Regions from separate parts of the Homo sapiens genome. Here region 1 is linked to region 2. The links come from fine-mapping of genetic effects on gene expression. A gene starts in region 2. The other region holds a variant in brackets. All regions are shown on one strand. Distances are from middle to middle. Region 1 has its middle 11 kb from the start of MIR661. Region 2 holds the start of OPLAH (5-oxoprolinase, ATP-hydrolysing).

Region 1 (5,356 bases), 100 kb before region 2:
CCCCTCCCCCCCAGCCTGTGGTTCTGGGGCACGCGACCCCGCTAACCCCAGCCAGACTGCCAGGTCACCAGGCCGGATCCAGGAGCGCTCGGACGGCCCACTCCCCAGCTCCGCAGCCCCCGGCCCACCCCACAGCCCCCCGAGTCCACTGCAACGAGCCATGCTTAGAACAGCCTGTGGGACACACGTGCGAGGGCCTTGAAGCCGTTACCCGCGCCCTGCAGGAGATACCCACCCATCCAGATCTCCCAGTAACTTCCTCAGCCGGCCCAACTCCAGGGCCTGGGCTGGCAGGCTGCTGAGATCAAGCCCCCAGACCCTGGTCGGCCACCTCCCACCTCCCCGGCCCCAGCAGTGTGCCCCTTCCCCGGGCGTCTCGCCTCTGCGCAGCCCTGGGTCAGGCACCTTGTACACTGGCTCCAAAGATGACAGGTCCGACCTGCACCCTGGTCTCTGCCTCTCCCACCCAGCCTCAGGATGCCCCACAGGCAGCCCCACAGGTCCTCCTGGCTGCGCCCCCCAGTCTGCCCACTCGCCAGCATCTCCACTGCCGCCAGATGACACTGCAGCTCCATCCCTCACCCACCCCCCACGACCACCAGGGACCCTTCGCAGCTGCTCTGATCCAACCACCCCTATGGCTAATGGGGTCAGCCTCCTCAGCCCGCAGGAGTAGCTGTGTGTCACTGCGCACGCCTGGGGGAGCAGGTAGCACTGGCAGGGTGAGGTCAGCTCTGCCTCACTCACTGCGCTGCAGGGGGCACGGAGGAATGCTGGGCCCTGCCCACACCAGGGCACCCCTTCAACACTGGCCCCGGGACTGTGCTCCACCCCAGTCCGTGCTGGTAGTGTGGGGCAGGACAGCCTCCACAAGATAGAAGTGACTAGCCTGCCTCAGTCTCCAGCAAGGCCTTTCCTCTGCCTTCACCCGCAAGTCCTTCCCCTCCTGTAAACAGACCCACTGTGCGCCAGGCTGGGGCTGGCATGGAGGACGTGACCATGATCCAGGAGCGAGGCCGGCAGCTCCCACGGGTACGAGCTAACAGGCAAAGGGCCAGAAGCCAGCCCCACCTCCACCGTAGACCCAGCAGTTCTGGAGTCTCTCGTCCCCCTGCCCGTCCCTGCCCTCCCTGGGACTCAGCCAGTTGGGGTGTGGGGAGTCTCAAGAAACACCAGTTGCCAAACTTAAGGAAAATGGTGAAGTGAGGAATTAAAACAGAATTTCAGGCCGGGCACGGGGACTCATACCTGGAATCCCAGCACTTTGGGAGGCCGAGGCAGGTGGACCACTTGAGGTCAGGAGTTTGAGACCAGCCTGGCCAACATGGCAAAACCCCATCTCCACTAAAAATACACAAAAAAATCAGCCAGGCATGGTGTCACACGCCTGTAGCCCCAGCTACTCAGGAGGCTGAGGCACGAGAATCACTGGAATCCAGGAGGCTGAGGTTGCAGTGAGCCGAGATCGCGCCACTGCTGAATTCCCAGCTAGGTTTTACTGAGCTGTATCTGGATAAACCTAAATTTGGCCTGCAAGTGAATCATACTTCCTTAGTAAACCTCAAGTGAAAGTGACAGATATTTATAAAGAGATCTAAAAAGTTCATACATTTTTAAAAAATGCTGTTTTTTTTTTGTTTTGTTTTTTTGAGACAAGGTCTCACTCTGTCACCCAGGCTAGAGTGCAGTGGCTCAATCACGGCTCACAGCAGCCTCGACCTCCTGGGCTCAAGCGATGCCCCCACCTCAGCTTTCTGAGTAGTTGGGACTACAGGCGTGCACCACCACTCCCAGTTCATCTTTTAATTTTTTATACAGACAGTCTGTCTCTGTGTTGCCCAGGCTGGTCTCAAACTCCTGGGCTCAAGCAATCCTCCCACCTCCCAGTGCTGGAATTACAAGTGTGAGCCACACTGCCTGGTCCAGATCAATTTTTTTAATTTAATGCATAAAAATTTTCCTCAGCCTAGGGAGACTTTTTTTTTTTTTTTTTTTTAACTGAGGCAGAATCTCGCTCTGTCACCCAGGCTGGAGTGCAATGGTGTGATCTTGGCTCACTGCAACCTCTGCCTCCTGGGTTCAAGCAATTCTCCTATCTCAGCCTCTGCAGCTGGGACTACGGATGTGTGCCACCGCACCGGGCTAATTTTTGTATTTTCAGTTGAGATGGGGTTTCACCATGTTGGTCAGGCTGATCTCGAACTCCTGACCTCAGGTGATCCACCCGTCTTGGGCTCCCAAAGTGCTAGGATTACAGGCATAAGCCACCACGCCCGGCCAGGGAGATTTTTTTAAAGGATTAAAACGCATAAAATGGAATGTTATAAGATTGGCCAGGCGTGGTGGCTGAGCACTTTCCGAGGCTGAGACAGGAGGATCACTTGATCCTGGGAATTCAGGACCAGTCTGGGCAACAAAGCAAGACACCGTCTCTGCAAAAAACTAAAAAACTATCCTGACACGGTGGCCTGGGCCTGTGGTCCCAGCTCTTTGGGATGCTGAGGCAGAAGGACGGCTTGAACCAGCCCACCCAAGGCTGCAGTGAGCCGTGATTGCGCCACTGCATTCCTGTCTGGGAGAGAGCAAGACTGACTCGAAAACAAACAAAAAGATAGGATCATGGTTTCAAGCTAATGAGAAGGTGAGGGCACACAGCTGTTCAGAGAAGGAACACACAGCTTTTCATGCACCGACTCCGCCTTTAACTTCCCCCCTGAAGTCAAGCTGCCCGCCTGTGAGTGGCCACCATGGTCACCTGTGGTCTCCCGCAGCCAGAGGCTTATCGACAAGCTGCAGCAGCAGCAAGTTCCCATGAAGGAGCCTGAGACTGCCCAGCCCAGCCTGCCTGGAACGGTGGCCACATGGTGCAGCCTTGGAAGTGGGGGCGGCCACGATGACCCTGGGAAGGGCTCAGCCAGCTGCACGTCAGTCAGCTCTGTGGTTCCTTCCCGGCACAGGCTTCCCAAAGGAAGGGACAGCTATGTGGGGACGGGCCGCAGGCAGCCAGCACAGGAAGAGAGGCCACAGGCACCAAGGCCTTGCCGTAGAGGAAACAAGTCCAGGCAACCCCCAAGAAGGTGGAGGTGGCTGCAGCCGGGAGGGGGGCGCCTGGAGACGGGGCTACAGCC[G/A]GGGATTTCAACAGGACAGGCAGGTCCCAGGCTGGCAGCGAAGGGCCCACGAGCAAGAGATTTAGGCAGCGGGGAGGAAAGGGAGCTGGGGTAGAGGAAGCTGGGCGCCCTGGTGACGCAGCTCTGGAGCGTGGGAAGCAAAGCCCCGGCCACTGCCCAGGAGATCTCATCGCTCTGGCCCCAATTCATGGATCACAAAGGAGTCTTGCCGAAGAAGCACGCGGGTCTGTGTGTCCAGGCCAGTGAACTGCAGGGACCCCCAGGCTGCAGTCGGGCTCACCAGCACCAGTGCCTCCGGAAAACCCCTACCTCTAGCTTCTGCTTTGCTGGTCGAACCCAGCATGGCCCCCATGCCCAGCTGGGGTGCCATCAGGTCTCCTGGCCAGGTCTCACACCCTGGGCAAAGCCAAATCCTCATGAAGCTCTCTGCAAATTCCCCACACCACTGGGGACCCCAGAACCAAGGTTGAGCCCAGGCACCACAGATAAGCCCTCCCTCCTTCCCAACCCCTCTGTCTGGGCACAGAGCAACCTCCTCTTCACCAGTCCCCAGGCCCTGGCTGCCCTGGCCACAGGCCCAGGCCAAAGAAGGGGCTCCAACCCTGTCCCCCACACCACACCTGCGAATGGGATGGGCCCTCCCCTGAGGCCCTGCCCACCACCACCCTGCCTGCCCTCAGCTTTGCTCCCTGCCCCATCTTCACGCCCACCCACCCACCCAGCCCCTAACCCCCTGGCAGCCTGCCCTGCTGGGGCTCTCTGGTGGTGGTGGAGCAGGCCAGTGGGCTGTGACCCAGTGACCCCATGCAGAGGCGACCTGCGACAGGCAGACACCCTGCTGGCAGATACCTCCACCTGGGGCCCCCGACAATAGCCCCAGGGAGACCAGGCCCAGTGAAATCCTGCCAGATACATCCAGCACACACTCAGCCCTCCGGAGGCACAGACCCCTGCTCTGCTCCCCGCCTGAGCCTGCGGCAGGTCCACAGGAGCCACCTCACCTGCCCCAGGCTTCTGCCTCGCAGCCTTGGCCCAACAACAGCCCGGCCTCTGCGGATGCTGCGGGACAGGTGGGAGGAGAGCCTTCCATGCTCTGGAGGCCACCCCTGCGCAGGGTGGGGCTCAGTGCGAGCTCAGTCGGGCCAGCCAGCCTGCAGGATTTCTGGGGTGGAGGGCCACCACTGCGGGACTGGATGCCCACCAGGGCTGCTGGGAGTCCCAGTGAGGGCCCAGGAGGCACAGAGGTCATCTCTCCGAGCCACATCCTTCTCCTCTCTCCCCTGCAGCCCAGTACAAGAGTATCTCAATACCAGGTGTCTGCTAGAGACCAATTTGCGGGGAAGGTCCTGGGTCCCACCCACATGACCATCCATTAGGGGGCCCATCGTTCCCAAATATCTCTCAAACCTGTCCTGTGCCCACTGTCTCCACCACACCCTGGCCTGGCCACCACCCTTTCACCTCAAAGACAGTGGTAGCCTCCCTCGTTGCCCCTCACCTCCAAGCACTGGACAACAGCAGCCAGTGCTCTCCGAGCACAAGCAGGTCCCACCACAGCCCTGCCGCTGCCCTCTGGAGGCCCTCCTCACGCAGGCACCTGCTCTGCTGCAGCAGGGTGGACCTCGCCAGGCCTCTGTGGAGAGGCTTCTCACCTGATCCATGGTGGCTCCCCCTTCCCTCCCTCTCAGCCCTCCAACACCGAGACACCTGTGGGCCCCTGGGGCGGCTGCCTCACCCAGCACCAGACACGAAGGTGTCACCACAGGAAACATGGAGCAAGAGAAGAAATGAATTCCTGGAGTTCAGGGATAATGCACTTTCCCAGAACTCTGTTAATATCGTTGACTTCACTAGCAGATTAAAGGAGAAAACCGGTATATTGATCTAGAAAATCTCGACAGCTCATTTGATAAAAACCAGTATTTATAACAAGGAATGAGCTTACATCGTTAACATGCAAATAAATGACCCTTGTAGCACAGCGGGGCACCCTCCCAGTGTGAGGCGAGGCTGCTGAGGGGAGGGCGTGTGAGGGTGAATGCGGACGGTGCAGGCGCAGCTCTCGGTCCAGCGCCAGGACATGGGACAGCATTTACCCAAGTCAGCACTGCTCCTCTTGGCACCTGAAACAACTCAACTCACCATTTACTGGAGCTCAGAGAAAGTTCATTGAGAGGCTGGCTTCAAACGCAGTTAAAAGACCCGAGAGATTTCTTTAGGCCAGTAAT
Region 2 (5,356 bases):
CATCCGTGGACGTGCCTGGCAGGGGTGGGGTGCTGGTGGGTCACTTGAAGACCCAGGGGCCCAGCAGCTGAGCCTCCCCGAGACCCCAGCCCTCGGCCCTCATACCTCCCATGTCAAAGCCGATGACAGGCTGGCCACCCTCCTGCTGGTAGGTGGTGGCTGAGTAGCCCACCACGCCGCCGGCCGGGCCCGAGAGCACAGCACTGGAGCCGCTGAAGGTGTCCATGGGCGCCAGGCCGCCATCGGAGCGCATGAACAACACCTGCACATCCTGCGAGCGGGCAGCAGGCGGGCCATGAGGGGCAGGCCAAGGCCCAGGCCCAGGCCCAGGAGTGGGCAGTGGGGGTGCCTCACAGCCTCACCTTGAGTTGGCCCTGGAAGCCACGGCAGAAGCCCTGCACGTAGCGCTGGATGGCGGGCGTGAGGTAGGCGTCGGCACAGGCCGTGTGCCCCCGAGGGACGATGCGCACCATGGGCATGGCCTCCGAGGACAGTGACACGTGCGTGAAGCCCAGCTCCCGGGCCAGCACACCCACCTGCTGCTCATGCTGGGCCCACCTATGACAAAAACCCAGTGGCACCTCGTCTCCCACCAGGCCCGGCACCTGCTCCCGCAGCCCACAGCCCCACCTCACTCACGTGTACGAGTGCATGAGCACCACAGCCAGGCTGCGGATGCCTCGAGATAGCAGCCCCTCCAGCTTCCCACGCAGGGCCCCCAGGTCCACAGGCTGCTGCACTTCCAGCAGGTCCCCCGTGCGGCCTTCCAGAAAAGCCCAGGAGGCCCCGTTAAAGGCCAGCAGGACCCTCCGGCCCCAAATCCCACAGCAGCGGCGGCACACACACCTTTCACAGGCGTCCCGGTGCCCGCCTCTCCACGGTGCAGCACCACGCGTTCGTCCACCTCCAGCACCTCTTCATACAGCACCTCAGGCATGGGCACGGCCTGGGGGCGGGCAGAGACTCAGAAGAGGCCCAGGCCTGAGGGTCCAGGCCGGGGTCCTGTGTGAGTGGGTGGTACAGGTGAGTGGCTGTGTCCCAACAGGCCGGTCGGCAGGCCCAGGAGAGTCATACCTGGCAGCCCCAGCAAGGCTCACCAAGGGGGCAGCTCTCCACCCCCTAGGCAGCTGAGTGCAGCCAACTGCTCCACCCCCACGAAGGCAGCTTCTTCCGGAAACGCAGCAGTAGGTGCGGGGTTCCACCCCTCCTCTGCCTGAACAGGGTAGCTTGGGTGGCCCCACACCAGCATCCAGGGTGGGCATGGCGGCAGGCAGGAACAGGGCATCCTGTGCCCACTCCGAGGGCTAGGAGAACTTGGGGTCCCACTGGGAATTCGGGAGCTTCCTCTTTGTCGGCTGGTGCCCATGAGCCATCACTAATCCAACAACTGCTCTCCCCACAGGGTCAAGGCATCCCTGGGGGGTGTACACCACACAGCCTGGTCCCCAGCCAACATGGAGCTCACCAGGTCAAAGAGGTCCCCACGGGCTTGGGTGCCAATGTGCAGCAGGTCTCGGAAGCCACGTGTCACCAGCAGCGCCACCCGCTCCCCCTTCCGCTCCAGCAGTGCGTTGGTGGCCACTGTGGTGCCCATGCGGATGCTGGCGATATGACTGGAGTCCAGCGGCTGGTCCCGGGGCAGGAGCATGCCGGCCTCCTGGGGACCACGTGGTCAGTGTGGGGCTTCTGGCCGTGGGGTCCCTGTCCACCCGCTCCGCCCTGGCCCACCTGCTCCAGGATGCGGCGGATGCCTTCGGTTGGCGCGTCCGCATAGTTGGCAGGGTCCTCTGAGAGCAGTTTTAAGACCCGCACGTGCCCCCCTGGGCACTGGGCAAAGACGTCTGTGAAGGTACCCCCACGGTCGATGGCAAAGTGGAAGCGGCCCTCGGGGCTGCCCATGGTGGTGGGGCTGGAGTCCCACAGGAGCTCTTCAGCTGGTAGCCCTGGAAAAACTGGACGGAGGCGGGGTCAGCCCGGGCTCACCTGCGAGTGGGACTAGAGGCTCCCCAGCCCTGCGCATGCGGGGGGTTCCTGAGGGAGAGACCCACGGGCACGACTCTGGGAAGAGCCAGAGCCGCAGGCCCAGCTCCGAGGGCAGCCTGGGCCCGAGCGAGAGCCTGGCCGGCGGTCAGCGGCCTGATGCCCCCATGCCCAGCATCGCGCTTCTCCGGGCCCTGGACTGGGCCGAAACCCAGGCAGCGGAGCAGGCACGGGAGGTGGGGACGCCGCTGGACCCTGGAGCCCTCGGGCGGGGTCCCTCAGCACGAAAGAGGCACGGGAGTGCGGGGAGGGGGTTTGGGGCGAGCTGGCCGGGGGACCCCACTTCCCGCTTTGCTCGACCTTCGACCCAAGCCTGGCGGGCCCCGGGACAGGACGGAGCCTGAGCACCGACGGGGCGACCCGAGGCGGGGACGCGTGAGGAGCGGCCCGGGAGGCAGCGGGGAAGGGGCCGCGGAGGGGAAGCCCGGGAGGCAGCGGGGAAGGGCCGCGGAGGGGAGGCCGCCCGGCGCAGGCCCCACCTGGCGCTCGGCTCCGGCTCGGTCGCTCGCGGTCGGCTCTGCCTGCGCTCCCGGCGGCCCTGCCCGCACCAGCCTCGCCTCGGGGAGGAGCCTACAGGGCCCGCCCCCCGCGCCACTGGTCCCGGCACTCGCGGTTACATCAGGCCGGGCCCGCCCCCCGCGCCTCCGTCCTCGCCCTGCGCTTCCCCGGGCCACGGGCGCAGGATCAAGGGCACCTTGGCTCTGCGGCCCTCGGGTCTCCGGCGCCGGGCCTGGGCTCGCCTAGCGTGGGCGCCCCAGGATCCCACCTCCAGGTGTCCTGGGCAAGGGGAGCTGGCAGCCCAGGCCACAACAGGGCTTCCCACTGGCGGACGTCCTTCCCCGTGGAGGGGGCGTTGAAGGACAGAGAGGAGAGGGGAGGCCCTGCGGCCTTCTCTACCAGCCCCAGCTCCCGGCCCCGTGGGCCTCTCCTGTGCGGTATCTCTGGCCTTCTTCACCGGGTCTCCCTCATCTCCAGCCCTCCTTGTGCCAGAGGCGTGTGAACCAGAGCAACTCCATCTTGAATAGGAGCTGGCTAAAAAGAGGCCGAAACCTACTGGGCTGCACTCCCGGACGATTAATGCATTCTAAGTCACAGGATGAGATAGGAGGTCAGCACAACACACAGGTCATAAAAACCTGTATCTCCCAGCCCGGCCAACACGGTTGAAACCCCCTCGCTACTAAAAATACAAAAATTAGTCAGGCATGTGGCACGCGCCTGTAATCTCAGCTACCGGGAGGCTGAGGCAGGAGAATCGCTGGAACCCGGGAGGCGGAGGCTGCAGTGAGCAGAGATCGTGTCACTGCACTCCAGCCCAGGCGACAGAGCGAGACTCCGTCTCAAAAAAAAGAAAAAAAAAAACCCTGTATCTGATAAAACAGGTTGCAGTAAAGAAGTTGGCCAAACCTACCAAAACCATCGTCCTACACTCCCCGCAGCGCCATGGCGGTTTACCAGGGCCACAGCAACGGCACGAAGTTACCCTATATGGTCTAGAAAGGGGAGGCATTAATAATCCACCCCTCGTTTAGCATATCATCAGAAATAACCATAAAAATGGGCAACCGGCCTGGCACGGTGGCTCACGCCTGTAATCCCAGCACTTTGGGAGACCGAGGCGTGTGGATCATGAGGTCAAGAGATCAAGACCATCCTGGCCAACATGGTAAAATCTGTCTCTACTAAAAATACAAAAATTAGCTGGGCGTGGTGGCACGCACTTGTAGTCCCAGCTACTTGGGAGGCTGAGGCAGGAGAATCGCTTGAACCCAGGAGGCGGAGCTTGCAGTGAGATGAGATCGCACCACTGCACTCCAGCCTGGCGACAGAGTGAGACTCCGTCTCAAAAAAAAAAAAAAAAAAATGGGCAACCAGCAGCCCTCGGGGTGCTCTGTCTATGGGGTAACCATTCTTTATTCCTCTACTTTCTTAATAAACGTGCTTTCACTTTAGGCACTCGCCCTGAATTCTTTCTTTCAAGAAATCCAAGAACCCTCTCTTGGGGTCTGGATTGGGACCCCTTTCCTGTAACATTTGTGCCAAGGGCAGTGGACTCCAGCTCCCCATAGACAGGGATGGGGCCCAGGATCAGGCACTTAGGAACCCCTCCCCATGGATGGGCTGCTGCTCATGTCCAGATGACTGCCCTGTAAGTGGCACGTGCCTGCTGTGATGCCACCCCCAGACCCCATGCCCATGGACCTCCTAGTGCCTTCCCATCCTGAGGCCCAGCTGAGGCCCCAGATGATCATGCCACGCCCACATGCAGGAGCCCCACCTGCCTGCTCTGAGCAGTCCGTGGGAAGCAGCTCTGGTCAGCAACCCCACTTCAGCCGAGGACCTTCCCCACCAGCCATACAGCCTCTGCCTGGCCAGCCCACACTCCTGCGGGACTGCCCTGCCTTCTGGTTTCCACCCATCCCCAGCACAGCCTCTTGGTCCTGCCTGTCAGCCCAGGATCTATCAGGAGAGATTCCCACACCCCACCCACCCACACCCCCACCATCTGCTGCCCTGTACGCACTCAGGCTGCCCGCCAGGCCTGTGCTGTAGACCCCAAACTCTCTCACTGCCCTCCACCATCCCCAGCCACCCCCTCGCCTCTCTGTTCACTCCAGGGGCCTGTGCTATCCACTCACAGACGAAACCTCTAAGGGCCTGTCCCCACGCTCCCTAGCGGCATCCCACTGCCGTGCACCTCCAGGTGTCCACCTCCCCCACCTCCGCCTGCCTCCTGGGCTCTCCTGACCCCACTCCACTGCGCGTCTCGGGGGCAGACCAACAAAAGCCAACCCCCACCCACCCAGGCTCAGGCCTCCCTTGGCTGCCCCACCTGCCTCCTACCCCACTGGGCCTTTATCTCTGTCCCTCCATGTTGCTGGGTCCCAGCTTCCCCTTGGCAATGCCACGCAGCCCCTCCACAGCAACCAGAGGCAGCTCCAGGCCTGCGGGATGGCCCGGCCCCTACTCTCTAGTGGCGCCTCTGACTGCATGGCCAGACACGTCCCAAAACCAAGCCCCAGGCCACCTACCAGTGGCCCACTCCAGCAGCGGCTCCCCCACCCAGCGAGCTGCCCCAGCCCCATTCTCATCCCCACACGCAATCTGCCAGAAGTCCTGTTACTTTCACCTTCAGAACACAGAGCTGCTACTTCTCACACCTCCACCCCGGCCAGGCTTCCATCACGTTCCCCCAGGGATATGGCTGTCCCCACCACCAGAGAGCGCAGGGCTGGGAGGACAGAGTCTGCCGTTGCAGTGACTCTGACAGCTTCAGGCACAGACAACTTGCACCCACCTCAGGGCCTGGCACAGG

Evidence for each region. PIP is the estimated chance that this variant, and not a neighbour inherited with it, causes the effect.
Region 1: its variant is the best candidate, but not a certain one, in a credible set for the expression of OPLAH in blood mononuclear cells (TOPMed, PIP 0.84).

What each region holds. Positions count from the first base shown.
Region 1 is chr8:143,953,969-143,959,324 of GRCh38, forward strand. It overlaps a transcript of PLEC not described here. Among named protein-coding and RNA genes, the nearest start is that of MIR661, 11 kb to the left of the region's middle. RefSeq lists a silencer at 1-52 and an enhancer at 3,365-4,268. The variant G/A (reference allele first, on the strand shown) is at 3,129.
Region 2 is chr8:144,058,134-144,063,489 of GRCh38, forward strand. OPLAH (5-oxoprolinase, ATP-hydrolysing) reads right to left here and starts at 2,559. Exons shown (of 27, transcript NM_017570.5): 1 at 2,520-2,559; 2 at 1,729-1,952; 3 at 1,466-1,657; 4 at 847-946; 5 at 640-763; 6 at 363-558; 7 at 106-271; 8 at 1-15. The coding sequence starts at 1,899. RefSeq lists a silencer at 2,366-2,975 and an enhancer at 2,767-3,287.